Linked DNA regions of Homo sapiens. The protein of the gene in region 4 interacts with the protein of the main gene of each other region in a biochemical or structural test. Each region holds a gene or a part of one and is shown on either strand. Other genes may lie near its edges.

Region 1 (7,779 bases), on a different chromosome or scaffold from region 4:
TGGGTGGGCGGGGATTGGGGGGAACATTGACCTGGATGGTCACAAAGGTGCCAACCAGCTTAGCTGCTCCAGACCTCAGCTCCTGAAATAGTGCTGAATCCACAGGACTCAGCAGGGTCTACTGAAGCTCATCGGCACTCACTGTACATGAAGCTAAGGCACCGAACATCAAAATGTTGAAATACTTCTGCTCCTGCTGGTAAGTAGATGCTTCCTTCAGCCTTGGGACACCACCTTACCATACTTCCCTATGATCCAGCAACTAAAGGTTGAACACCTGGCACAGATGGAGGCCCCCAGAACAGTGCTACCACTTTCTGATTGGTAGATGATAATGGTTTAGCTACAAAAACGCCTAGGCTCAGGAGCAGCCTTCAAGGAGAACCCAGTCTAGACCCTGGGAGACACATGGAGAATCAGAGTTAGCAGAACCAAGAACCCAACAAACCCATGTCTTTAGTCCAGGGCTGTAGCCTTCCCCAGGAGGCCCCTCAGCTTACTCGGCTTTGTCCTATAGTCATGGCTGCCTTCGTTCACTTATCCACTCACCAAATATTTACTGTGCACCTACTGTGTTCCAAGCACTATTCTAACAGCTAGAAATGCAGGGGAGGACAAGCCAGACAAGGTCCCTGCCTCATGAAGCTTACGTTTTAGGGGGAGACAGATTATAAACAAGGAAACAAGATAATTTCTGATAATAATAAGTGCTATGAAGAAAATGAAACAGCATTATGAGATAGGGAGTTACTGGGGGTGGGGGAGAGGAAGGCAGGGCAACTTTAAGTTGGAAAGCCAGGAAAGGCCTTTCTGAGGATGCAGGATTTCACCTGATGACAGAAAGGGTCTGGGGGAAGTAGTTTAGGCAGAGGGGGCAGGACATGCAGAGTCCTAGAGGTGGAAAAGAGCATGGCATATTTGAGAAACAGAAAGGACAGTGTAGATGTTGAACAAGAGATAAGGAGGAGAGGGAGACAAGATGAGGTGAAAGAGGTGGGCAGGGAGGAGATCACATAGGGTCCTCCAGGCTACCATGGAGCATTTGGATTTTATTCCAGAGTCAGCCGGAAGATATTGACTGGATTCAAGCATGAGCTACATGATATGTTTCTTGAGGGCAGGCACCATGTCCTTGACATTCTAGTGCCACCACAAGGCCATCACCAAATAACAATAATAGTAGTTGCCTTTGTCCAAAATTTACACCTCATGGGCCTGATACTGTTCTTGGGATTCCCTTAATCCTCATAACAAGTAAATGCTAAAAGTTCAATTAACATTCCCACTCTACAGACAAGGAACCAGAGGCTCCAGGAAGTCACAGAACTTGGCCAAGGTAACTAGCCAGTGTTAGAACCAGGATTAGAACCCAGGCAATCTAGGTGCTATGGGTCCAAAGAGAGGAGAACTGAAGAATTGGTGAGCACCCAAGAAGTTTTGGGTAGCAGGAGAAACAAGGAGAGGTCCAGGAAGTCTTGGGGTCAGGTGAGGAAAAAACCAGCTCATTGGACCTGCAGGGAAGGGGAAAGAATGGGAGAAAAGACTGGGACCCGGGAAGCCAAATGGAGGGGTTCCTTCCCTTCTTCTCCCTGAATATGGCAAGGGCAAACCTTGAAGACCCACTGCTTGAGGCTGCCACCCACCCAGGGTCTCAGCTACCTGCCAAGCCTGGGTTTTCTCCAACCTCACCTGCCCTCAACAACGAACACATTCAGCTTTCTGGAAAGCACAAGTCAGAGGGGAAGCCAAGGTAAAGAGGAAAAGCCATGGAAGAAGAGCACTGTGCCTGGCAATCTACATAAGCTTACTCCTCACCAAAGTCACTGCCACAGAGGAGGACCTGAGACTCGGATGCCCTATAACTGGACAAAGGTCACACAGCTAGTTAAGCAGGATTCACTTGTGACTCTGACTGGCTCCATTCCACACCTGGATATTCCAGAAGCAGCCTTATTTCCCACTGGTCTGTCCTCTGCTGTCCCTCTTCTACCCTTCCCCGGGCAGGGAAACTGCCTGCCCATCTCCCAAGCCAACCCTTGCCTGGTCCTAGCAGTTTCCTTCCTCCTTAGCCTTTTCTGGCCTCCATCTATTTCCCCTCGTGCCAGTCAAAGCATTCATCTTTGAAGACAGGGTTTCCTGCCCACCTCCACCTTGGACCCCAATTTGCCTTGGCAGTCTCCTGGGCAGAGATCACACCAAGTCACTCGCCAGCAGCTGGATATCCGTGTGCCTGGCAGCCAGGTCCCCCAGGGCTGGGGTCTGGAAGAGGTTGGAAAATCTTCCCTAGTGGCCACCTCTAACCTAACTGGAGCTGGGAAGCAGGAGCTCTCCCTGGAAATTTAAAAGTTCCTCTACCATCCCAGTGGAGTTGGAATCTATTCAGGAGTCTTCCATCATGGAGAGCCAGCCTAGAGCCAACACAGTTTATCCCCATCCCCATGTTTATCCCAGAATCTCTCCCTATTCCACCCCATAGGCTCCACCACACCCTTCCAGCAGAGGTTTCTTCACAGGTGCCCAGGTAATACAGTGGGGAAGGAGCTGGGGCAGGTGTCCTGACCACACTCTCCTAGGAAATGCCTAGATGTGTGGGCCTGTGGAATATTGAGGCAAGGTTATCTGTCCAGGGCCTCAAGTTCACCAAGGGCCTTATATTACATTTCTGATCTTGTCTCCAAATAAGGTTATGCACAGAGTCATTCTCTATTGTATGTGTTTGAAGCGTTAATTTGTTCAATGTAAACATCCAAAATATACCACAGCTTTCAATCCTGTTTGTCATCTTGCTTTTTAAATACCAGGAACCTCAAAAATGGAAGAAGGCAGGCTTCACTCAAGCCTGAGAGGCCCTGATGTGTGTGTCCCAGAGGGAAGGTCCAGGGAAGCAGCACACACTAAGGAGTTATCCCAGGGCAGAGGAGCTGTAGGGGGCTAGGAGCACCATCCTTTCAGTGGAAACTCCTGGTGGGGCTAGATCCCATCTCCTCTGGAAGAGTTCTAGCAACTTTTGTGCCAGCGGTCCTGCCCAATCCTCTCCTCATAGCAGCAAGAGTGAGCCAGGCTGAGGAGGCCGACAGGCCCAGACTGGCAGAGGAGTGTAAGAGGCCGCACAACCTGCCCGCCTGCAGTTCTGGGGCCAGACGCCCTGCTTCATGTTGTCACTAGGGCCAGAATCCATGTCCAGCGCCAGACTCCCCTCCTGTGCCCCGCAAGAACGGCCCAGCGAACCCTGTGTAGGGGAGGCGCCGAGGATTGGAGAGGCTCTGCTAAGGGCCCCGCTGGGCGGAAGGCGCGCGCTCCCTCCCATGGGAAAGACAGATGTGGGGCTAATGAAAGGGAGGCCGAGAGGCGCGGGGACGGCCGGGGAGACGGGGGCGTGGCGGGGAGAGGAAAGCTCCCGGAGAAAGCCGATCGGACCACCGCAAGCGAGGCATGCAGCGGAGTCCGGAGGAGGAAGGCGCCGGGGACTGGGGCAGGGCCAGGGCGGGACGGGGGTGGGGGGTGTGGGGGGTACCACAGGCAGTTGGACCCGAGGGTCCTGAGCTGAAACTCAACACCCGCCTTTGGAAGGATCGTCCCTCTTTCTCCTCCGCCCCTTCCCTTCCCCTCCCCTTTCCCCTCCCTCCTTTCTCTTAATCCCCAGGACGGAGCCCTGCGCGGGAGAGGAGAGGGCCTGAGGGGAGGAGAAAGGAACAGCACTGAGAGGGGCCAGGAGCCCAGGAAGGGGAGGGAAGGGCAGCCGCGGGCCAGGGGTGAGCCTGCGGGCCACGCGCGACCCCCGGAGCCTTCGCAGCCCTCTCAGTGTCCCCACTCCCAGCCCAGGCGAGTCCACAGGACCCGGGCCCCTGCTCCTCCCTCGCCTTCTCTTTGCTCCTTCTTTTGCTTTGTGGCCTTTCTTTCCCTTCCCAGAGACACCTGGGAGCTGCCCCCAAGCTTTGGGGCGCCCCGCGGGGCCCTGCCAAGGGTGCGTGTGAGAGAGGGCGGCGGAGCCGGCGCCGGGTGCCAGGGGCCGAGGGTGGGAGCGGGAGCTCGTGGCCCTGCGCCCTGGAGCCGAGGACTGGAAGGGGGCTGGGCCCCTCCGCCGCCTGGGCGCAGGCCGCGCGTCGGGAAGGCAGTCCCGCCTGTTCCAGGGGTGCCTGCGTGCTGGTTGCTGCTGCCCGGGGCGAGGCGCCGTAGCGGCGACCTCAGACCCCCGGGCGCGCTGAGTGAGTGCGCGCGTGAAAACCGCCGCACCGCCGGGGGTGCGAGTGTCTGGGCCGAAGCGGCCACTCCAGCGACCCAGCCCCACGGCCACGCTCTCGGGGGCCTTTGGCTCCAGGCAACTTGGGGCAAGCGTCTCAGTTCTCGCTCTCCCTTCCTCCCAGCGGGGTCGCCGCAGACCCCAGCCCTGGGAGCACCGCTCTGCAGCGCGGCCGGCGGGTGGAGACGGTTGGCCCCTAAACTCGCTCGTCCAGCCCAACCGCCCCGGCGGCTTCTCCCAGCCCTCGAGGCTCTCCTGAGCGGCCTGGAGAGGCGTCGAGCGCAGCCCAGCGCCCGCCTGCTCACCCGCCCCGGCCCGGGAAGGGAATTTTCGGATCCTGCGAGCCCGGGGCGCCCCCGCGGCCTAGGGCGGGCAGCTCCCGGGGCCTGGCCGAGCCGGTGGCGCCCGGGAGGCCGCGGGGACAGCACGCAGCGCGCGCCCTTGGATGCCGTCCCGCAGCGACGCCCCGGCCCGCCCCGCTCCTCCTCCTGCCTGGCTAGCCTGCCTCTCATTTGGGAAGTTTTGTGGGTTTTCTTTCTCCTCCTCCAACCTTGGCGGAGGCCACGACTCAGGCGCCACAGCTGGGGGCTAGAGGCCGCGGACCATGGTGCGGGGCAGCCACCGCTGAAGTCAGCAAAACCGAGCCTGGCCTGAGGCAGGCTGCGCGGGAGGCCAAAGCCATGGCCATTGCCACGTCGGTGAGTCCACCAGGGAGTGGAGGCTGCCGGGGAGAGACCTCCACGGCCTGCCCTGCGCTCCTGTCACTTTATTTCTGCCCTCTCTTTGTCTCTCTCCTTGGTCCCTTTCTTCTCCAGGAGGCTGTGTCCCCCTCCTCTCACTTTTGTTTCCCTTCTCCCTCTCACTCCTCATCCCCTGCTCCTCCTGGCTCCGGGCTCGCCCCTCTTCCCCGCCCCCTCCCCATTCTCCTTTTTCTTCCTAGAGGCTGCGCCTGAATGGAGGGGAAGGGGCAAGCGTAGCCCGAGTCCTATCTGCTCCTTTTGGGCGGGAACAGATGGCCACTGGTGGTTGGCAGAGGCTTGTGGTTGGGAGGCAAGTAAAAGGTTTGGAGGGGGCTGAAAGGACCTAGTGGCTCACGGAAAACGGAAAACGAGAGGCTGAACGACCCCAGGAGGCCCATCTCGAGACGAGGGATAAGGAAAAAAGGGAGATAGAGCAAAGGAGGGAGATCAAGAAAGAGAAGACAGAGGGAGGAGGGGAGGTGATGTCAGCCAGAGCCTCAGGCCACTTTCCAGGGATCGGGACAAAGGGAGGAGACAGCTGGCATGATGGGACAGTGGGAGGAGGCCTCCCAGAGAGCACAGAGGCTCTCTGCCACCTACATTAGGCTGGCCATTCCCTCACCAGTCAGCTGGGCTGCTGGGGGATAGAGCAGGAGTGGTCACACCCATCATCAATCAGTCCATCAACAACTCTGTCCTGCAATGGCAGGGCCCAGAGGCTTGGCTCCATTGGACAGAACTCAGTCCTAACACCGGGAGGAGCGCTCTACAGCCCCACCTCTGCTTTCTGTTCTACAGTCTATGCAGTCTGAATCCAGGCAGCTTTGTTCCCTTTCCACCCTCTTCTAGGTCCTGCCTAAGATTCCCAGGGAAGCGAGGCCGTCACCTGCTTTCTGTTCCCTTCTCAGTGGGGACTCTCGGAGAGAGACTGGAAAGAGAAGCACAGAGCCACCCAATGTCCTCCCATACCCTTTGAGGACAGGTTCAAGTTTGGTTCTTTCTCAGACCAAACTCCATTTTTTTTTTTTTTTTGAGACAAGGTCTCACCCTGTCACCCAGGCTGGAGTGCAGTGGCACAATCACGGCTCAATGCAGCCTCGACCTCCTGGGCTCAGGTGATCCACCTACCTCAGCCTCTTGAGTAGCTGGGACTACAAGCACGCACCACCACATCAGCTTTTTGTATTTTTTGTAGAGGCAGGGTTTCGCCATGTTGCCCAGGCTGGTCTCAAACTCCTGGGCTCAAACAATCCATCCGCCTCAGCCTCCCAAAGTGCTGAGATTACAGGCATGAGCCACCGCACCTGGCCCCAAATTCCTTTTAGTTCCTCAATCTGTAACGATGGCCAGGAAACCCTAGCTCAGAGTGGGGAAGGAGGCCCTCTGGAGATAGAGTACCTCTGGGAGTACTCTGGCATAGAGATACTGGTTCAGAAGCCAGCTGGTCAGCTTTGTAGTCCCAAGAATGTAGATTTTTCTTTTTGGGGTCAGGGGCATTTATGCTAATCAAACTCACAGGATTCTAATAACAGCTATTATTTATTGAGCATTTACTGCACCTGGCCCTGTGCTGCGCTTTGTCATAGTTTCTTTATGCGTTATCTCATGCAACTCTCACAACTACCCTGTGAAGGTAGTATTGTTATTATCTGAAAATGGATATGCGCATATGGAATTCTACAGAGAAGGAAATTGAGACTCAGAAAGGTTAAACAATCTGCCCAAAGGAACCTGGCTAGAAAGGGACAGACCTGGCTGGGCGCAGTGGCTCACACCTGTAATCCCAGCACTTTGGGAGGCAGAGGCGGGCGGATCATGAGGTCAGGAGATCAAAACCATCCTGGCTAACACAGTGAAACCCCGCCTCTACTAAAAATACAAAAAATTAGCCGGGCGTGGTGGTGGGCGCCTGTAGTCCCAGCTACTCGGGAGGCTGAGGCAGGAGAATGGCGTGAACCCGGGAGGCGGAGCTTGCAGTGAGCCGAGATCGCACCACTGCACTCCAGCCTGGGCGACAGAGCAAAACTCCGTCTCAAAAAAAAAAAAAAGAAAGAAAGAAAAAGAAAGGGACAGACCTCCAAGCAGTGGGTCGCAACGGTAATCCCAGGTATTTAGGAGGCTGAACCCAGGCATTCGAGGTTACAGTGAGTTATGATTGTGCCACTGCACTCCAGTCTGGACCACAGATCAAGAGCTGATCTCTAAAGAAATATTTTAAATAAAATTTTAAAAGAAAGAGACACAGCCAAGACTCAAGCCCAGGTCTGCCTCTAGAACTGTGCTTTTAATCCCCTGGCTAGATCCAAAAGACTGATTTATAATTTACAACTAAAAAGAAAAGTGCAGCACTAACCGGGAATTTGTGTCATCTGGTTAGCACGTTTCTTTGTGTGGGACAATATCCTTTAGAAACCAAAATATAATCAGAAAATGGTTTGATGAGTTGGGAATCAGGCAAGAAGAGGGGTCAATTTGTTGTTAAAATCACCCAGCCATGAGAGGCCGGATAACCTCACCACCAGAGGGAAACATCAGCTAAGAGGAATATGCACTCCTGCTGACTCTAGCAGGGCATCCTTCTCCCCAGGGTCTGGTGGCAGCCTGCCTGAGATCTTTAACTTTGAGATTTTTTTGCTGAATTAGTCAGTCCGTTTGGCTACCTGGCTAGTAATGCCTAACTAGCTGCTCTCCAACACTACATGTAAGTCACCACTGCCTGGGATCCTACCAGCAAGCATCATCATTTAGCAATCAAAACTGAAGCTGAATGTAATTGTATGTTTTGAGTGGTTTTAGCTT
Region 2 (7,023 bases), on a different chromosome or scaffold from region 4:
GGCCACCAAGCCTGGCCACCAGGGGAACCTGGGTCACTGGCTCCCACTTCCTGCTCTACCTGCTCCTTCAGCCATCTGGTCAGAGGCGAGCCTGGCTGGCGTGGGGTGCCTGGGTGGGGGTGCTCCCAAACTGGCTTTAGCAAGAGGAGCAGGGTCCTGTTATCCCCTGGGGAGGCGGCAGGGAGCAGTGTCCTGTAGGGGAGCCTCAGGCCACAGTCCAGGTATACCCACACCCCACACAGATGAACACACGTGCATGATGCCTGTACCCCACAGATACGAACACCCATGCACACACCATATGCACGAACACACACATGCGCTACATGAATGTGCGTGAATACATGCACATATCTGCATCCCATACCCCATAAATGGACACACGTATACGCCCACACATGCGCACATCATATGCATGAACACGCACACACCCAAACCCCATATGTGTAAACACACGTGCATACTCACCCCACACACAGACACGTGTACGTCCACACATACAAAGCGTGTGCACCCACCAGTATCCCACAAACGTACAAATGTATGTGCGTATGCACACGCACACACAGTCCACACTGCACATGCCCCAAGGTCAGGCACATCCCCACCCCTCCTCTCCCGCCTTTGCAGTGAAGCTTGTCCTGGTGCGGCTGGAAGCCCTGTGGGCTGGGGAGCAGCAGCGAGACCCCCAGACAGAGCCCGGCCTCGAGGCTGTGTTTTGGCAGCTGTTCTGTCTCCGTCTCCGGCAGGGGGCCTGCTCTCAATTGCATCAGGGGCTCAGCCAGCTGGGTCCTTCTCTGCCCATGCCCACTGGTAGAGCTGCCCAGACCTGTGCCCCAAGGGCCCTGACCTGGCTGATGGCCCAGGAAGGAGAGCCCTGTGTCCTGGGCCTGGCTGCTCTCCCCCAGGAAACCTCCCCCAGTCTTGATTGTGTCTGCTTGTATTTTATGATCACAAAAGCAATGCTTGTTTGCTGTAGAAAATGCATAATGTATGGGAAAGTCTGGAGATGAAATTTTCCAATCGCGGTAATCACTGGGAAATTCTGGCATATTTTGTCTAGTATCTGCCCTGTGTTTCACAGATTTATACATGCAGTTTTGCATTTCAAAGTTGTAAATCCAACATTAGATATCAAAAGCATTTTGTTGAATTCTTAAAGCTTGTCCCTGAGCCGCCTTGGACTTTGCTGGGTTGCCCCCTCTGCTGGGGCGGGCCCTGGGCAGTTTCCGATTGCTCATGCCTTCATTACGGTGGCACGGCGGTAACACCTGGCTGCGGGACATCTGTGTCTGAACCTCCAGGTGCTCCCCTCCAAGCCTCAGGCCTGCCCCTCAAATGCCTGGGAAACTGAGTCTCCCAGTTCCAGGGTAGTGGTTGGCTGGGCTGAGAAGGAGCCCTTGCCAGGACTTCACGTGGGCGGGAGGGACACTGGCTCTCAGGAAGCCAAGAGGGTGAGTGACAAGGATGGTGGCCAGGAGGGTCAGAACCCTGGGCCCTGGAGCAGGGTCCAGTGGTTGCTAAGGTGGGAGCCTGGTGGCCCGTATGGCTGAGGGAGAGGTGAGGGCCACACTGGCACCGAGACTCTTTGGGCCGGGTGTGGGCTGTAGGAATCTGAGGGCAGAGGCTCTTTCATGGTCAGATGGGACCCCCGGGGGAAGGCGTCTGTGGGAGGTCGCTCAGGTAGTGCCCCTGGTCAGTGTCTAAGGAGACAGCCATGGCGTGAGGTCAGGCGTGCACGTGGTCCTGTCGGGCCTGTGTTTCACCCTCCTCGCCCTAGAAGCTTCATCTTGCCCCAGGCTCCCCTGTGCTGGGACCTCAGGCTGGGGTGCCTGGAGCTGGGGAGGGAGGGGAGCGGGCTATGGTGGTGGCCCCTCAGGCCACCATGACCCAGGTCGGGTGAGCCCCTCATGCTGGGGTGTGTCCTGGTGGCCGTGGTCGCAGCGCTCCTGTGGTGCTCCATTTCCCAAGGAGGAAACGAGGCTCCTGGATTGGGACCTGGGGGTGCCAGAGCCGGGAGCCAACCCAGGTCAGGGGCGACACCCATTTTGCAGAAGGGGGAGACCAGCCACTGAGCTCCAGGGCGGGGGCCCACTTTGTCCCCTTCCTCCGACCTGACACCTGCCTCTGGGGCCCTTACCGGGAGGCTGGGATGTATTCCTGAGTTCGCTTGTCCCCCCGCTTGATGCCTGATAGTAGGGGAGGAGAGGGGCGGCACCCTGGCCCTGGGGCTGCCTGGGTTCTGTGCGTGCACCTGGCAGTGGGCCTGTGCTGTGTTTTCTCTGCATTGTATGAGGCATGTGTGTCAGAGACCGTGTGGGTCTTATGTCAGTGACTGTGCCTCTGTTCTCTCCTCCTGGGCTCTGGCTGTGTTCCCCTAACCCCCGGGGGACCTCCACGGCCTGCTAGTGGGGTCTCAGGTGTGCAGCAGGGTGGCCTGTGATTAGCAGTGGGGCTGAGTCATTCCCCTAAAGAGCTTTTCCCCCTGGTGGCTGCGTTGCTCTGTTTTTCTAACAGAAACATTTGGTCACTGTGGCTGCCTACTGCCACCCGACTCAGCTCCAAGAGTGGCAGGCGGCCATTTGCCTGGGGAGGCAGGCCTGGGTCCAGCTGCACCCCTGGGCCTCACCGCGTGAGGTTGGGATGGCCACCGGCAGGGTGCTTTTGGAGGATGCTCATCCCTCCTGCTGGTGCTGGGTCCTGGCTGAGCCTTGAGGCTGGGTCCCCACCTGCCTTTGGGAGGCTGGGAGGCCTGGAGAAGCCTCAGGCCGTGCCTCGAGGCCCAGCCAACCTGCCACGTCCCTCCGCCCCGCCTGCCCCGCTGTTGGCAGGTCCCTGCATCTAAAAATAGTTCTGGAGGAGACTCAAGTCTGGGGCGCGTGGAGGGAGATGAGTCTGGAGAGGCAGCCGCCAAATCCACTCCCAGACGCACTGGAAGGGGGCGGGGACACCCCACGGAGGCCCCCAGCCGGGACTCTGCTACCAGGCGTGCTGGAGACCTAGTGGGCCCAGTTCTGCTGCGCTGCGGGGGGCTCTGCCAGGCCTGCGGCTGCTGGGGGGTGCTGGCGCCTCTGCCACCCCCATGCTCAGCGCCCCCCTCACAGCACCCTCAGCAAGCAGGGCTGGCTGCCTGCCTGCATTGGGAGGGCCTCTAGGGGTTCAGGGGCACTGGGCCCGGGGGAGGGGCTGCTTTGGCGCTGCTGCCCTGGGGGATGTGCGGGGAGGCCCTGAGTCAACCCTGTCCCAGACATCCCCTTTGATGAAGGAACAAAAGGTCTTTCAGTGGAGAGAGCTGAACAGGGAGCCTGGTGGTGGAGGCGTGTGGGCGCAGTGTGCCCGGGGGCTGGAGAATCCCACCAGGGAGGCCTTGACCTCCCCAAGGCAGGGAGACCTTCAGGGAAGGAGGCTGCCTGGCATGGCCCCTACCCGCTTCAGGCTGGTGCTGGTGAGGGGTCCTGTGGCCCTGGGCAGGCCATTGTGCTGCCTGCCTCTTCACCCACTGTGCGGGCCTTGGCTTCCCTGGGCTCTGGGTCATGGTAAGAGCACCTGGGGAGGGGAGGGCTGGCCCTGGACCCACTTCCCCCACTAGGCCTCATCCTTTCAGGTCGCTGGGGATCTTACCTGCTGCAGGCAGCTCCCCCGGGGCAGGCGCGGCAGGGAGGGGGCCTTGGTCCCAGCTGCTGCGCCCCCCAGCACACACCCAACCTGCCCCTCTGGCCCTGTCCTCCAGAGTCTCCCCATGCTGTGCTGTGGGGCAGGGGGTGCTAGGCTCTATCTGGTCCTGGGCCGGATGCAGTCCCCTGCTGGGCCAACCCTTCTGAGGAGGCTACAGCTAGGTGGTGTGGGCAGCAGACTCCCAGGCCTCCGACGTGGCCTCTTGTCCTGTGGGGCTAGGCGCCCCAGTAACGGGGGGTTCCTTGCCTGTGGGTAGTGCCCTCCAGAGCCAGGGCCTCAGCCCCTCACCCCACCGGTGTCATCAGCTCATACCCATGCTCCTCTGTGGAGCCTTCTGGGTCAGCAGGCTGTAGAGACGTTGGTGTCCTGGCCCAGGACGAGGCAGCTCTGAATAAAACCCAGAGTTCTTGCCGTACCTGGCACTGCGTTCTGCTAGAGGAAGGTCAGATGGTGCAGAGGGGGTGAGAACTGGCATCCTTGGGGAGCCCCGTCCCTTCCACCTGGTGTGCCCTGCCCACCTCCTAAAAGGACGTGGCTCCCAGGTGTGAGTGGAGCCTCCCTAAGGGCTGGTTTGAGGGCAGCAGTGAAGTCGGCTCTCTGCCCCCAGGTGGTGGTGCCCACCCGCGTGGGGCAGGGCTATGTATACGAGGCCGCCCAGCCGGAGCAGGACGAGTACGACATCCCGCGACACCTGCTGGCCCCGGGGCCACAGGACATCTATGATGTGCCCCCGGTTCGGGGGCTGCTTCCCAGCCAGTATGGCCAGGAGGTAGGTGTGGGGTGCGCAGCGGTGGGAGGGCAGGGCGGCAAGTCTGTGCCTCTGCTTGGCCCTGGGCCGAGAGCTGCATCTTCTCAGCCCCGGCCAGGCCTGGGGACGGTGCTGCGGGGTTCCCACCTTTCCTATTCCCCCAAGTGGCCCTGGCGCCGTTAACCCTGCACTGTTTCTGCCCCAGGTGTATGACACACCCCCCATGGCTGTCAAGGGTCCCAATGGCCGAGACCCGTTGCTGGAGGTGTATGACGTGCCCCCCAGTGTGGAGAAGGGCCTGCCACCGTCCAACCACCACGCAGTGAGCAAATGCCAGGGCAATGCCAGGGCCAGGCTGAGGCTGTGGGGTGTCTGGGTGTGTGCACAGGGGTGCTGACCAGTGTCTGCAGGGCTGGGGGTGGCGGGCAGGAAGAGACTGGCTCCAGACCCTGGTTCTGGATGGTTGACAGATGAGGAAATCAAGCTGTCTTCTGAGCCTCAGGTTCTTTGTCGGCAGAACCGCCTGTTGCGAGGCCTTCTCCATGAGCTCCTGAGAGGGTATCCGCAAGGTGACCACGGGATGTGTCATCTCACCTGGGATACTTCCAAGAGTGAAGGGGGGACTAGTAATTATGTGGGGGCATCAGGGACAAACCAGCACTGTCCTGGGCAAACCAGAATTTGGTCCCCTGATAATACACACAGAGCTCAGTCGCACACCTGCTGCAGAGTAGAAAGTTCACACGTGGTGGTGGTGCTGGGTGGTAACAGTGATGGTGGTGATGAGGTGGCAGCGGCGGTGATGGTGATGAAATCATGATATGATGGTGGTGGCAGTGGCAGTATCACAGCTAACCTTTCAGTGAGTGTCTGCAGTGACACAATTATGTGAATTAACACATGCAATTCTTTGGGAGGAAGCTCTCCCACCTTCAGGCACAGGGGTGGTCACCTGGCTCCAGAGCCGGCTCGTCCCAGAGCTGTCATGGATAGGAATTGTGAAGGATGTGTGTGCTAGGGCTGCGAGTGTGTGTGCGCGTGTGTGTGCCTGTGTGCGTGCCTCTGCATTTGTATGTGTGCCTGTGTGTGTGCGCGTGCCTCTGTGTGTGTGTCTGTATGTGTGTACGTGTGTGTGTGTGTGTGGCTGGGTGCTGCCCCCAGTCCCTGGGGTGGGCAGATGGACAGATGGACAGTCTTGACCACCGCTTGTCCCCCAGGTCTACGACGTTCCTCCATCGGTGAGCAAGGATGTGCCCGATGGCCCACTGCTGCGTGAGGAGACCTACGATGTGCCCCCCGCCTTCGCCAAGGCCAAGCCCTTTGACCCGGCCCGCACCCCACTGGTACTGGCTGCGCCCCCTCCAGACTCCCCGCCGGCCGAGGACGTGTATGACGTGCCGCCCCCGGCTCCTGACCTCTACGACGTGCCCCCTGGCTTGCGGCGGCCTGGCCCGGGCACCCTGTACGATGTGCCCCGTGAACGGGTGCTTCCTCCTGAGGTGGCTGATGGTGGCGTGGTCGACAGTGGTGTGTATGCGGTGCCTCCCCCAGCTGAACGTGAAGCCCCGGCAGAGGGCAAGCGCCTGTCGGCCTCCAGCACCGGCAGCACACGCAGCAGCCAGTCTGCGTCCTCCTTGGAGGTGGCAGGGCCGGGCCGGGAACCCCTGGAGCTGGAAGTTGCTGTGGAGGCCCTGGCACGGCTGCAGCAGGGTGTGAGCGCCACCGTTGCCCACCTTCTGGACCTGGCAGGCAGCGCCGGTGCGACTGGGAGCTGGCGTAGCCCCTCTGAGCCACAGGAGCCGCTGGTGCAGGACCTGCAGGCTGCTGTGGCCGCTGTCCAGAGTGCCGTCCACGAGCTGTTGGAGTTTGCCCGCAGCGCGGTGGGCAATGCTGCCCACACATCTGACCGTGCCCTGCATGCCAAGCTTAGCCGGCAGCTGCAGAAGATGGAGGACGTGCACCAGACGCTGGTGGCACATGGTCAGGCCCTCGACGCTGGCCGGGGAGGCTCTGGAGCCACCCTTGAGGACCTGGACCGGCTGGTGGCCTGCTCGCGGGCTGTGCCCGAGGACGCCAAGCAGCTGGCCTCCTTCCTGCACGGCAATGCCTCACTGCTCTTCAGACGGACCAAGGCCACTGCCCCGGGGCCTGAGGGGGGTGGCACCCTGCACCCCAACCCCACTGACAAGACCAGCAGCATCCAGTCACGACCCCTGCCCTCACCCCCTAAGTTCACCTCCCAGGACTCGCCAGATGGGCAGTACGAGAACAGCGAGGGGGGCTGGATGGAGGACTATGACTACGTCCACCTACAGGTGGGTGCCGCCTGCCCAGCCCCGGCTCCTCTTCTGCCACGCTGGGCTCCTGTGCTTAGGGGGAGATTTGTTCTCAGCTGGGGCCTGGTCCCTGGCAAGGCCCTGCACCCTCCTCTCACTTTGACCTCCCTCACCCCACATTGGCCCCATGTGCTAGGGTGGCCATGTCATCGAGCCCTTCGTTGAGTCCCTCGGGCTGGTATCTCTGGTGACCAGCAGCGGTGACTCTGCTGTTCTGTGTGGGGAGACAGATCTGCAGAAATGTGCACACACACAAGGATGCTC
Region 3 (7,023 bases), on a different chromosome or scaffold from region 4:
TGAGGTACATATTGTAGAGAGAGAAGCCAGAGAAATACTTTAAAGTTGCCTTAGAGATGGTTTGATGGGTTTTACATTTGACTTGAATGAAACTCTGCGCTTCTTAGTATTTTGTGGTATTCACTGAAACAAACTGGGGCTAGGCCTGTAAGAGGAAGTTGCTTTTTGGTTAGGACCTGTTACATTAAGCTCAATATCAGTAATGATAAAATTATGGCAGTCAGTTCTATGGGGGTATTTTTGAGTAGGGCAGTTATTTTTAAGGAGAAGGAGTAGAAGAGATTAGACCACTGCTTCTCAACTAGGAGGATTTTTGTCCCCTCTGGGTACGGGCAATGTTTAGTGGCATTTTTTGGTTGTCACTGTGTGTGTGTGTGCATGTGCACATGCATGCACACGTGTGTTACTGGCATCTAGTGGGTAGAGTGGCCAGGGATGTTGCTAAACATCCTACAGTGTACAGGACAGCCCCCACCACAAAGAATGACCTGGCCCTAAGTGTCAATAGTGCCAAGGTTGAGAAACCCTGGATAGAGGAATGGACACCAGACTGAATTAGGAGGGTCTAGCTTCAGACTTCACATTTGAAGACTAATGACCATCAAATCTCTGCCTTTTGTGCCTCTGTTTCCCTGTCTGCAAAATAAATATTAATAGACATGTTCTTCTTTATAAAAATATGAGGAATCATGAGATTATTTACTCCAAATGCTCTGATTTCTTCAGGAAAAAGAGTCTCTATAAAATCAAAGCACAGTTATTATTACTGCGCCAAGATGAGCTCATGAAATTGTGTCTTAAGAACTGTACTCCTCCCCTTGGAAAAAAAAACTTCCTCTAGGAAAAAAAAACCAACAAAACAAAAAACCCAGAAATGATCTTATCATGATTACACCTGCCACACCAAAAAACAGACACACTTCAGAGAAATGAAATTCTTTCCCTTCAGCAATGAACTAAGCTGAGTCTGTAATTAAGATCTTAATAAGGGAGGCAGGAGGCTTGATTCAGGTGCTGCGGGCTATGAGGCGAGAGCGCCCATGCCAGGTTTAAAGCAAGAACAATTGGATGCAAATCCCCCGCACTGCTTAACACTCTCAGGTGTTCCAAACAAGTTCTTATTTCAAAATGGGCATGGCTTTATTTCTAAAGATGCCTATTTCTGCAAAGAAAAGGAAAGAGAGCACCTTGTTATTTACAAGTCAATGAAAAAAAAAGCACAACATCTTAGACAGTTTCCTGCAAAAGGCTGCTGTAAGGGAGATGGGATAATGCCTTCGACAGTGGATTAATCTCAGGAGCAGCCCTTGATGACAGTCTCTAGAGTGACCATGTGCTTCCGGACTCTCCCAGGCAGTCCCCAGGTTCAAATATCCTTCCCTTTGTCAGACCATATGTCCCATTTTTTTGGTTTGTAAAACATGGATACATACTCACAAAAAAGAAATATTTTTGAAACCAACAACAAAGGATGGGAATGTAAGTATATTTCTTGATTATGGATCTGCCATGGCTGAATTTCGGATTTGGGAGAAAAAGAGCTAGGCACTGATAAGAATCTTAAATTCAATCAACGTTATGTGTTCTCTAATTGACAAGGTGATGTCTGTAAGGAAATGAGATCGATTCCAGTGCCTCTGGGCCTCTGTGAGATAGCCTAGAAGTCCAGCTCCACAGTGACAGGGGTTATCAAGAGAAAGGAGGCTGTCGGGCTGCGTTCATTTCTGCTATTCCCTTCCTTGAACCCATTTAAAGGTGTGCTTGTCATGCTGGGCTCTGAGTGGAGAGGGTCAGGGAAGCGGAGATAGCACTGGACTTCTGCCCCAGGGGAGCATGCAAGGGAAAGAGGGCTCAACATTTTGCTAGGCCAATGCTGCTGTGGTAGTGCGACTGTACCACAGGTCCACGAACCCATTTCCTGCCAAACTCTCAGTCATGCCACAGTGACTAGTAACAAGAACGAAAGAACAAAAGGAAAAGAAAAAAAAAATCTCATCGACAGATGACTGATGTGTCCTGACACTGAAGACTCAGAAGTAGCTGGAGTGTCTAGAAGTCCACTTACTGCCATTTTCTGTGTGCTGGCTTTGCCTGTTATGGTTATTTTGGGAGGCGGAGGGTGTTGGGGGGCAGAAAAGCCCAGCTCATTCTTAAAGAGTCCTCTAGATGAGTCCTCAGTTAGCCTCATCTCCTGTGGGAGTGAGGCATTAAATTAAGGAAAACAAGTGGACTGTCATGAATCACTGAGATTAAGGCTAACTCATAGTTACCAAGAGATAGCACAGTGTTTCTGCCTGACCAATAAAACCTAGGAAAAACATGAATGACATATACTATCTAAATGCACAATGCCTTAAGAAGTAGACAGGAGATCTGGTTCAAATCTGAACTTTACACGTGTTTTGGTTACTGCAACTTTCTACTGGGTTTCACAGATAATTAATCCATCCACCGCCCCCCTGCCCCCCAACCACACATACACACAGTAAAAAAAGGAATTCAAATTAATTTCAAAAGGGCTATCAAATATTTTTGTTGCTTGAAATGGTTTCACTTTTACATATTTGTTGCTAAATCTTTGTTTCCTGTGGGCATAAACATAACATTTCATGTGAGGGACATTTTTAGTAACATCATATAACTATTACCTTGATATGTTAGACATATCAGGGGGAATTCTAATTCGCAAGACTGAGATTTGCAAAGAAACATGACACTTACAAATCACTGGATCCAGCCTTTGAATAAGGATCATGAACTACCTACTTAGACACCGTGTAAGCACCAGAAGCACTAGTAGTGGTTAGTGAGGGGATTAGGGAGAAAGAGACTAGCTGTTTTGTTTGTTTGTTTATTTGTTTGTTTGTTTTGTTTTTGAGACAGTCTCACTCTGTCGCCCAGGCTGGAGTGCAGTGGTGCAATCTCGGCTCACTGCAAGCTCCGCCTCCCGGGTTCAAGCCATTCTCCTGCCTTAGCCTCCCAAGTAGCTGGGATTACAGGTGACCACCACCATGCCCAGCTAATTTTTTGTATTTTTAGTAGAGACGGGGTTTCACCGTGTTAGCCATGATGGTCTGGATCTCCTGACCTCGTGATCCGCCTGCCTCGGCCTCCCAAAGTGCTGGGATTACAGGTGTGAGCCACCGCGCCCGGCCTTTTTTTTTTTTTTTTTTTAAAGAATAACTGGGATTTAATAGTCCATTGTGGGGCCCAGGAATATGTATTGGAAAACATTCCACTGGCAACTTTAATATCTCCATGACAGCTGCCTCCACTCCCTACGTCAACCATGAAAAACTGCTGTCAGCTCCACCACTATCCATATTTCTGGAGTGCCCGTTCTATCTTCCTCAAATTCACCTAGATCTCATTGTTTGGTCAAACTGTCTTCAAAGAGAGTCACCCTTTCCAATGAAGGGTACAAAAGGTTACCAACAAGGTGACTTATCTTAAAATGCAGATTGTTCAGGAAAATAATCCTTTGCAGGCTGTCATGTTCCCTAGCTGTGTGGAATCCTCATTAGCCAGCAGGAATTACTGCAGAGAGATGGCTGGAATGTTCAAAGTAAATAAGATGGAGGGGGGTGTTGTTGGCAAAGTATAAACAGGGTTTTTTTTTGTGTGTGTGTGTCCCCTTTTCATGCCCGTACTCTTTGCAACCATCTATCACCTAGGAAACCGTCAGTTACTCTCTGGCATTTTAAGTTAGAAATATAGTATTTCTTCCCAATGGCCCTGTTTCATTTGTCTTGGCGAGAAGTCCTGGTAATTCAGCCTATATGTTCTTGCAGAGTATTGCCTTGGTCCTAGTGGTTGGCATTTCAAACCAATTTGTTCAGATTTCTTTCTGACCCTAAAATGATCTAAACATAGACAACCAAGACCTCTTACTTTACATTTATGTCATTCTAATTGACTGCAATTGGATAAGAGAGTTCACCCTGAACTTCTCATGTACTCCCAACTTACATTCTTTGGATTTTATCTTTGGTTTTTTGAATTGACGACTTTCTCTTCCTCACTGATATTTCTGTTATGGGTAAACAATTCTAGTGAATGTCTCCTTTAAACACTTTTATCTATATAAAAATTCCATATCTATATATCTGTATATCTTTGTGGGTATGTGTATATAACATCATATAATAGCTGCCATTTATTAAATGCCTAATATCTGCTAGAAAGGACAATTGTCATATATTATATCCTATAACTATCTGACAAGACAGGTATTATTCTCATTTGATAAATGAGGAAAAGAAGGTTTAAAGTAGCTAGCATAAAACTATACTGTTAGAAAGTAACAAAAGTGGGATCTGAAACAAAGCCCATGTTTTTTGTTGTTGTTGTTGTTTTTTTACTATGCCATATAGTATTAAGATCCTCTTAAATGGCTATTTGTGTATACATTTTGTCTTCTATGAGCAAAGTCTTGTAATTTCAGGAATACTGAGTCCAATGAACAATAATGAAGGAATCAAGTCATTAGTATATTAGCAAGTGGGGTCATATGCTGTTAGGGCCCTATGCTTACAATACACATCCAGGCCCACAGAATACTCAACAATATTCAACCATCTCAACCTAGTAACTGGGATTTTGACATAATTCTGTCACCAAGTCTTGAGTACATACCATCCTTTCAACATCTATTGAGCATCTACCATACAAAGAGAGCTGGAGCCAGCTTGCATTGTCTGCTTACTATATGCCAAGAGCCATAGTAAGTACTTCATTCATATATTATCCCAGGTCTTCGAATAGTATGAGGCAGTTATTCTTATCCCTATTTTACAGACAATGCTGTAAAATGAGGCTTAGAGAGCTTAACTTGCCTAAGGTCCAGAGCTATAAGCCATAAGGAACAGAAATGCCTTTCTTCAAAGCCCATGCTCTATCATGTCTCTAACACAAGAGCATAAAACACCAAGTCTTGGCCCCCTCAAAACTTCACAGACCCTAGATCATGTTTTTTATTCAAGGACTTTTCGATCAATCTGCCTCTACATACAAATAGAGGGTGGGTCTCTCATATTCAGTGGGGTTTACTTAAAACTAAACAGGCCCAGTAGGCAACCTATCTGAGTTACAGGTATCCTTTAGATAACGATTTGATTGAAAGAGGTCAATAAGTAAGGTAGTGCTAACAGAGTAGGGCAGAGGTGAAAAGCATAACAGCCTATTTTAGGGATTATAGGATGGTCCAGGAGACACAGGTTTCAGAGTTTGATTGTTTAAACAGAGTGGATGGATGAGGAGACTTTACTAGCGGGACTGACAGGCCACTCAAGTCATGTAAACGCAAACAGAGAGGCAGATGAATGGGGGCAGTGAGGGACCAAGATTTCCCATAGCAGAGTCTAAGGAGAAGGAAAAATGAGGGCTACAGAATGTGCATTAAAAGTGTCACATCTGTGTGTGGGAGGCAAGGGGGCGGCAGTAGATAGGTGCGGGTGGGGGGCTGGGGAGTAGGGGGTTGGAAGTAAGATCTACGGAAGTCAGTATTAAAGAAGCGTAAGGAAAGCCTGAAAAGAAGAAGAAGAAGATAAAAGGAGAACCAATGAGGTCATAAAAGCACGAAAGTGGGAGAGAATTTGCAAAAAGGCCGGGTGCGGTGGCTCACACCTGTAATCCCAGCACTTTGGGAGGCTGAGGCAGGTGGATCACCTGAGGTCAAGAGTTCGAGACCAGCCTGACCAACACAGTGAAACCCATCTCTACTAAAAATACAAAACTTATCCAGGCATGGTGGTGGGCACCTGTAATCCCAGCTACTCAGGAGGCCGAGACAGGAGAATCACTTGAACCCAGGAGGCAGAGGTCGCAGTGAGCTGAGGTGGCACCACTGCACTCCAGCCTGGGCGACAGAGTGAGACTTGATCTCAAAAAAAGAAAAAAAGAAAAGTGGAGAGGAAGGTGTTTTTTTCAGAAGACTGGAGTGAAGGGAGAGACAGGGAACCACTGAATTCTGAGAACAGGGACTGACGTGTATCCCAGCAAGGAAAGGATGCTAAAGGAATCCTTGGCATGTTACGCACTGTACAACTTGCTAAATTTGGTATTATCAGGCACCTTCAGTACTCTAAAGGCTTTTATCTCTGTGTAGGTAAGCCATTTAGCTCTGCAAATGGGTTTACTAAATAAATAAATAAATGCATAAATACATAAATAACCAAGTTGATATTTTTCAAAGCATGTTTTAGTGATTTTAAATCCATAGATCTCATACAAGGTTTAAAAAGGAAAAGGACAGGAGTCCTACATTTGGATTGGTTGCAAAAATCATACAGAGAAAAATAAAGCATTTTAAACCAAAATATCAAAGCAAGGAAATAATTGGGAATTTAATAGCTTATGCATGACCATATTGACTAAATTAAAGATCCTCTGTCATTATTTTCCTCGGTCTTGCTTGAGGAAATACGAATACTTTCAAAGTCCTTTCCAAAGCGTTTCACGGCACACAGGTTCTCCTTTCCCTGACCTACCCCATTCAACCAGAACACAGGACTCTGACTTTCAGAATGCACCTTTCTTAATGGCATTGTAAGTTCCGTCTGTAATTTTTCTTCAGTCAAAACGTTAAAGAATGAATTTGTTGCATGGTAGACGAGATAAATAATTTAGAATTTTAATGTAGGCACGTAAGGGCTCAGAAATTTGGCAAAGCCACAAAAGCGTCTCTGCTCAGCCATTAGCAGCCAGGCCAAGGGGCCGCTGAGCCCCCGCCCGGGCTGGGCCTGAGGTGGGCGGGGCCTCGGGCCTGGCAGGCACAAACGGGGTGGGGTCTCGGGGGCTTCTGCTCAAACACAGCTGCGCAGAGACCCTTCCATCACCCTCCTGGGAAACAGCACAACCATACACCTCCAGACCCTCAGGAGGGAGCCTTCACTGGGTAAGCAAACCAAGGCCATCGAGGCAATCACCTAACCCCGCCAGCCCCCGCCCAATTAAGAACATGCTCTGTATATGAAGGGGATTTTGTAGAAAATTCTTAATAAATGAAGCCCCCGTAATTTACTA
Region 4 (7,023 bases):
CAACTGAAATGTCTTTGTATAGAAATCAACAAGGTCAGGCCAGGCGCGGTGGCTCATGCCTGTAATCCCAGCACTTTGGGAGGCCGAGGCGAGCCGATCATGAGGTCAGGATATCGAGATCATCCTGGCTAACATGGTGAAACCCCGTCTCTACTAAAAATACAAAAAAATTAGCCAGGCGTGGTGGCGGGCGCCTGTAGTCCCAGCTACTCAGGAGGCTGAGGCAGGAGAATGTTGTGAACCCAGGAGGTGGAGCTTGCAGTGAGCCGAGATCGCGCCACTGCACTCCAGCCTGGGCGACAGAGCAAGACCTCTGTCTCAAAAAAAAAAAAAAAAAAAAAAAAAAAAATTTTAAGAAATCAACAAGGTCAGGGTTAATTAATGCACTATTTGCACCTTGAAATAATAACTCTACTTGTTTTTTTTTTTTTTTTTTTGAGACGGAGTTTCCCTCTTGTTGCCCGGGTTGGAGTGCAATGGCGCAATCTCGGCGCACTGCAACCTCTGCCTCCGGGGTTCAAGGGATTCTCCTGCCTCAGTCTCCCTAGTAGCTGGGATTACAGGCAGATGGCATGACGCCTAGCTATTTTTTTTATTTTTAGTAGAGACGGGGTTTCACCATGTTGCTCAAGGCTGGTTTCGAACTCCTGACCTCAGGTGATTGCCTGCCTGGGTCTCCCAAAGTGCTGGGATTATAGGTGTGAGCCACCACGCCAGGCCTAATAACTCCACTTTTAAAGTTTTATGTTGTTTAGATTGTAGTTTACTCTTTAATTACCAGTGTTTAAGATTAGTAACAAAAGATGTTAACTACTAAAATTCATTCATTCTTTCACAATTTTATTGGTCTTCACAAATAAATGAAAAAGTACTAAAAGGAAGATTTCTAAAACAATAGGTTTCTACAGAAGCAATTCCATCATTTATTTAAGTCGGGATCTAACTTCTAGGTGTTTTTAAAAACAGAAAATAAAAAACAGAAAAATATTTTTAAAAAATCTCTTTCCCATTAGCCTGTAATTATTGATAGTAAATGCTCCCATGATTTTCCAGATCAATACTACTATCTGGTGGTAATAATTAATTTGGAAGAATTATAGTACAATATTAAGCTTCTACAAGAGTTGTCCTAGACATTTTCACATACAGAAATAACTATATAGCATGAACTATGAAGCATGTTATTTTGTAGAAATTAATCAATAAAATCTACAGTAAAAAGGAAAAAAAAAATCTAACAACTTACCACATTTCTCATTTTCAGAGGTTATCAAGCCCTACGAGGAAGACATTTAATACCTATTACAATACATTCATTTTATATACAAATAATAGAAAGCTGGGTCTGTTATGGGTATATATCCCAAGAAATCAAGGCCTATCATTTTCAGCATCAGAGGAAAAGCAAACAATTGTTTTTTAATTAGGCTTAAAATTTTAAAATGTTATGCTATTTCTCCTTGGAGTAAATGTTTCTGGATGAGCACTGAAAAGCATGGGCTACTGCATGAAGGAACATACAGCTGTGTTTTGCCAGCCACTATTACTAATTATATCATTATTGTATTTTATATGTCAATTAAACTACATCATGTCTTAAAATCAAATATAAGATGTAGCTAAATTTCAGAGATATTAAAGTATGGGAGAAAATACAAAAAGTATTAATGTTAATAAAAAATGTTATCTCCTATGGACAAATGTGTTGTTGCTGAGACAGGGTCTCACTCTGTCACTCAGGCTGGAGTGCAGTGGTGTGATCATGGCTCACTGCAGCCTTGACCTCTGGGGCCCAAGCAATCCTCCCATCTCAGCCTCCCAAAAAGCTGGGACCATAGACATGCGCCACCACGCCTGGCTAATTTTAAAAATTTTTGTAGAGATAAGGTCTCCCCATGTTGCCCAGGATGGTCTTGAACTCCTGGGCTCAAGTGATCCTTCTGCTTGGCCTCCCAAAGTGCTGTGATTACAGACATGAGCCACCATGCCACGCCCTCAAAATATTTAATTGCCAAAACATTTCTCGAATGTCAAAGAAATGCCAGGTAGCCAGAAAAAAACAAAAGAAGCGACTATGTGCCTAGTGTTATAATGGGAAGCATCTAGAAATGTAAGAAAGAATTAGGACCCTGAAAATAGTAACTCCTATTTCATTCATACCTTCAAAATTATTTGAAGCATAATTTACATATTTCAAAAACAGCTTGAGAAAACAATACTTTAAAGTGATAGTTGTATGTAGATCAGGTTACCCTTTTAAAAAATTTCAGAACCTACCTTTTATATGGGCTTTTCATCTGAAATCTTAGTATAAGAAATGCCGATCAAAAATTACAAACTATATTTAACGATCTTAAGATGACAGCTATTTCAACAACTGCAAGATTAGTTAACAAAAGAGTAGAAATGTTAAGCTATAACTGTTCCAATTCCAAAAGGACTTACTTCAGACTTTTTTTGTTCAGATCGTTCCTGACTTTGAAGTTCACTCCATTCCGATCTTACAGGTGTATCTGAGAAAAATGAAATCTTATTGTTATTAACACCTTGAATTTCTGAAATTTCTTTGCATTAAAGTAATACAAAAAACAGATCCTAAAGATTTTAGAAACTATCGCTTCCACAAAAATTTTGTAGTTTCTGGGTAAGCATATTTCTGAAGTTTCTAAAAAAAAAAAATTGTAGTTTCTATTAATTCGAGAACATTCTGTTTCCTTCCTTCAAAACCTAAGTAAATAAATTCAGTCATCAGTGTATTACAGTCTATAGATAATGTGACAGACAAGTGAAGTATACTGCTTAATCTACAGACAACGTGACAGACTTAGACAACTGAAGTATACCGTTTCATTGCTTTCAACATTCTTTTTAATTGTTGTTGAGACAGGGTCTCACTCTGTTGACCAGGCGCGATCTCGGCTCACTGGAGCCTCAACCTCCCAGGCTCAGGCAATCTTCCCATCTCAGCTTCTTGAGTAGCTGGGACTATAGGTGCATGCCACCTCGCCTGGCTAATTTTTGATTTTATACAGACAGGGTTTTGCCATGTTGCCCAGGCTGGTCTCAAACTCCTAGGGCAAATGGAACAGAGATCCACCTGCCTTGGTCTCCCAAAGTGCTGGGATCACAGGCATAAGCCATTGTGCTTGGCTCTTTAACATTTATCTTAAAATCAGTCAAAATTCACTTTGGGAGGCTGAGGCAGGCAGATCACTTGAGGTCAGGAGTTCAAGACCAGCCTGGCCAACATGGTGAGACCCTATCTCTAATAAAAAAATTAGTTGGGAGTGACGGTGTATGCCTCTAATCGCAGCTACTCAGGAGGCTGAGGCAGGAGAACAGCTTGAGCCCAGATCGTGCCACTGCACTCCAGCCTGAGTGACAGAGTGGAACTCCAACTCGAAATAAAACAAAACAAGGCCGGGCGTGGTGGCTCCCGCCTGTAATCCCAGCACTTTGGGAGGCTGAGGCGGGCGATCACGAGGTCAGGAGATGGAGACCATCCTGGCTAACATGGTGAAACCCTGTCTCTACTAAAAAAATACAAAAAAATTAGCCGGGCGTGGTGGCTCATGCCTGTAATCCCAGCACTTTGAGAGGCTGAGGTGGGCGGATCATGAGGTCAGGAGATGGACCATCCTGGCTAACACGGTGAAACCCTGTCTCTACTAAAAAAAATACAAAAAAATAAGCCGGGTGTGGTGGCAGGCACCTGTAGTCCCAGCTACATGGGAGGCTGAGGCAGGAGAATGGCATGAACCCAAGAGGTGGAGCTTGCAGTGAGCCGAGATCGTGCCACTGCACTCCAGCCGGGGCGACAGAATGAGACTCCATCTCAAAAAAATGAATAAATAAAAAATAAATAAATAAAAAGAAAACCAAATGAAACAAAACAAAAATCAGTCAAAATTAATATATTGGTAAAATGTACTTAGACAAGTGAGCACCTCCACTGAGCATGAGACACTGTAAATACAATCAAGCTGTTTCTGCACTCTTTTTTAGAGGATTAATAGGGAGAAGTATATTATCAATGTTTTAAAGTATCATCACTTTCTCCCAGTTCTGATACTCCAGTGGTCTTTTTTTTTTCTTCCACAGACGGGGTCTCACTGTTACCAAACTGGAGTACAGTGGTGCGATCATGGCTCACTGCAGCCTCCAACTACAGGGATCAAGCAATCCTTCTTCTTCAGCCTCCTGAGTAGCAAGGACTACAGGCACATGCCACCACACCTGGCTAATTTTTTGTTGTTATTATTATTTTTTGAGACAAAGTTTTTTGCTCTTGTTGCCCAGGCTGGAATGCAATGGCGTGGTCTCAGCTCGCTGCAACCTCTGCATCCTGGGTTCAAGCAATTCTCCTGCCTCAGCCTCCCAAGCAGCTGGGATTACAGGCGCCCACCACCACAACTGGACAGTTATTTTATTTTTAGAAGAGAGGAGGTATCACTGTGTTGCCCAGGCTGGTCTCAAACTCTTAGGCTCAAGCAATCCTCGCGCCTTGGACTCCCAAAGTGCTGCGATTACAGGTATGAGCCAATGTGCTCAGTCTACTCCAGTGGTGTTAAATGTCTTTCAGTTAACACCAATCCAGTGACGCCCACCCAACAGAAATGTTTACTGACCTAAATCTAAGGAAAGCAATTAATGTTTTCATAAATAAGTGCTACTTTTTTTTTTTTTGAGATGGAGTCTTGCTCTGTTGCCCAGGCTGGAGTGCAGTGGCATGGTCTCGGCTCACTCCAACCTCTGCCTCCGGGGTTCAAGCGATTCTCCTGCCTCAGCCTCCCGAGCAGCTGGGACTACTGGTGCATGCCACCACACACAGCTAATTTTTTGTATTTCTAGTAGAGACAGGGTTTCAGTGTGTTAGCCAGGATGGTCTTGATGTCCTGACCTCGTGATCTGCCCGCCTTGGTCTCCCAAAGTGGCAGGATTACAGGCATGAGTCAATAAGTGCTATTTTTAATGAATGAAAATACACCAGATTGCAAATACACTTATAATTGCATTTTTTTTTTAAGATGGAGTTTCGCTCTTGTTGCCCAGGTTGGAGTGCAATAGTGTGATCTCGGCTCACTGCAATATCCACCTCCCAGGTTCAAGCAATTCTCCTGCCTCAGTCTCCCAAGTAGGTGGGATTACAGGCATGCGCCACCACGCCTGGCTAATTTTGTATTTTTAGTAGAGACGGGGTTTCTCCATGTTGGTCACGCTGGTCTTGAACTCCTGACCTCAGGTGATCAGTGCATCTCAGCCTCCCAAGGTGCTGGGATTACAGGTATGAGCCACTGCACCTGGCTTTGTAATTGCATTTATTTATTTATTTACTTTTTGAGACGAAATCTTGCTCTTCGCCCAGGCTGGAATGCAATGGCGCAATCTCGGCTCACTGCAACCTCCAACTCCCGGGTTCAAGTCATTTTCCTGCCTCAGCCTCTCAAGTAGCTGAGATTATAGGTGTCCACCACCATGCCCAGCTAATTTTTATATTTTTAGTAGAGATGGAGTTTCACCATGTTGGCCAGGCTGGTCTCCAACTCCTGACCTCAGGTGATCCACCTGCCTAGGCCTCCCAAAGTGCTAGGATCACAGGCTTGAACCACCATGCCCAGCCTATAATTACATTTAAATGAATTGAATTCTGATATCTAACATAAATGCAGTAATTTCTATCGATCTTAGCAAGTAAAAAATATAATTTAAAAGCATTTTTCAAACAAAGAATTAAAAGCATGTCAACATCAATTTACTTGTTTTTGAATTTAATTATGTAGCACAATAGCTAATAGATTAAAATCAGGTATGTTTTTCGGAGTTTATTATTAGAATATGAAGTAAATGTAAAAGCAAAAGAGACACTCACTATGTTCACTTGCTAACACAAACGATTCAGGAGTTCTTTCAGGTAGGGGAGGAGGTGAATCTTCACTAACATCAACATCTAAATTAAACACATAAAAATTTAGACAAATTAACATGTCATCTAAACAAAATCAGAGAGCTTTCTTGACATTCTAAAAATTCCTGTCACAAATATCTAGATCAGTTTTTAAAAATGCAAAAAAATGCAAGAAACCTTTTCCACTCATTATCAAGAATTATGATGCTTATTGAGCAAAGATAATGTATACAGAAATGACTCTCTCCCATGACTTTCCTGTCACTCTACAGACATCATTCAGTTCTCCAAGCCTGAAGGGAATCTTCAGTAGAGAAGTCAGCTGGCAAGTGACTTCTCTACTGAGCTTACTGATGATGTTTTGTGTCCAAAAAGGAAAGCTTTGGTCATTTGCGTTATGAAACGCCTAAGCCAGTGTTTCCCAAACAGGATTCAATTGCTTAACACCTTTCATGATTTTTGCCATACTATGTAACATGTGTCCTATTCACTTTTAAAATCTGACTCATTTTAAACTTAACTGTGTACCTCAGTCATGTCTTAAACAGCAATAACTGAAATAACATTGGAAATACTAGTTATTTTTCCAAAACAGATAAAGATATAGCTATTAAAGTTTTTTAAAAAATCTTCATTTATTTATTGCTAAAGATTTTGTGTACAGTGGCACATGGCTGTACTTTGAGAATGCTGACTGAAGCTATATACAGGTTTTTCACTAGTAAAAACAAAATTAGCTCTTGGGAAAGAGAGTGCATTAAGTAAGCCTCATTGGTTAGCTTTATTATGGCTTAAGGTAAATGAGTGTATTTGATCTTTGAGTTTTCACTGGAGGAATAGAAAGAAAATATAAGAATACAATCCTGTGTGTGAACTCTCAGGTTGGGGAGGGTGGGATAAAGAAAAAGAAATGCGACGGTCCTGTATTATTTTGTCTTGAGCCTTGCCCATTGTTCTTAAATGAACACACAGTTCTGCCATGATACTCTGCTATTTTACCACACCTGATGGCTATGCATAGGTCTTGTCAATTTTCAACACGCATGAGGTGAGTATGATTGCTTTTGCCCCACCTACATTTATTTAGCTGGAGACGCAAGAAAATACAGCTTCTGGGT

Evidence for each region.
Region 1: the proteins of PTPN12 (region 4) and EFS form a complex in vitro, tested with the Homo sapiens proteins (one study listed by BioGRID).
Region 2: the proteins of PTPN12 (region 4) and BCAR1 form a complex in vitro, tested with the Homo sapiens proteins (3 studies listed by BioGRID and IntAct, with this or other methods).
Region 3: the proteins of PTPN12 (region 4) and NEDD9 form a complex in vitro, tested with the Homo sapiens proteins (one study listed by BioGRID).

What each region holds. Positions count from the first base shown.
Region 1 is NC_000014.9:23,362,167-23,369,945, reverse strand, and holds the start of EFS (embryonal Fyn-associated substrate), read left to right. Parts: upstream 1-4,773; 5' UTR 4,774-4,920; coding exon 4,921-4,938; intron 4,939-7,779. UniProt on the Homo sapiens protein: Docking protein which plays a central coordinating role for tyrosine-kinase-based signaling related to cell adhesion. May serve as an activator of SRC and a downstream effector. Interacts with the SH3 domain of FYN and with CRK, SRC, and YES.
Region 2 is NC_000016.10:75,234,604-75,241,626, reverse strand, and holds part of BCAR1 (breast cancer anti-estrogen resistance protein 1), read left to right. Parts: intron 1-2,966; exon of another isoform or gene 2,967-3,533; coding exon of another isoform or gene 3,534-3,536; intron 3,537-4,282; coding exon 4,283-4,444; intron 4,445-4,628; coding exon 4,629-4,745; coding exon of another isoform or gene 4,746-4,799; intron 4,800-5,640; coding exon 5,641-6,738; intron 6,739-7,023. UniProt on the Homo sapiens protein: Docking protein which plays a central coordinating role for tyrosine kinase-based signaling related to cell adhesion. Implicated in induction of cell migration and cell branching. Involved in the BCAR3-mediated inhibition of TGFB signaling.
Region 3 is NC_000006.12:11,222,646-11,229,668, forward strand, and holds part of NEDD9 (enhancer of filamentation 1), read right to left. Parts: intron 1-7,023. UniProt on the Homo sapiens protein: Scaffolding protein which plays a central coordinating role for tyrosine-kinase-based signaling related to cell adhesion. As a focal adhesion protein, plays a role in embryonic fibroblast migration.
Region 4 is NC_000007.14:77,631,272-77,638,294, reverse strand, and holds part of PTPN12 (tyrosine-protein phosphatase non-receptor type 12), read right to left. Parts: intron 5,948-7,023; coding exon 5,870-5,947; intron 2,530-5,869; exon of another isoform or gene 2,514-2,529; coding exon 2,446-2,513; intron 1,278-2,445; coding exon 1,247-1,277; intron 1-1,246. UniProt on the Homo sapiens protein: Dephosphorylates a range of proteins, and thereby regulates cellular signaling cascades. Dephosphorylates cellular tyrosine kinases, such as ERBB2 and PTK2B/PYK2, and thereby regulates signaling via ERBB2 and PTK2B/PYK2.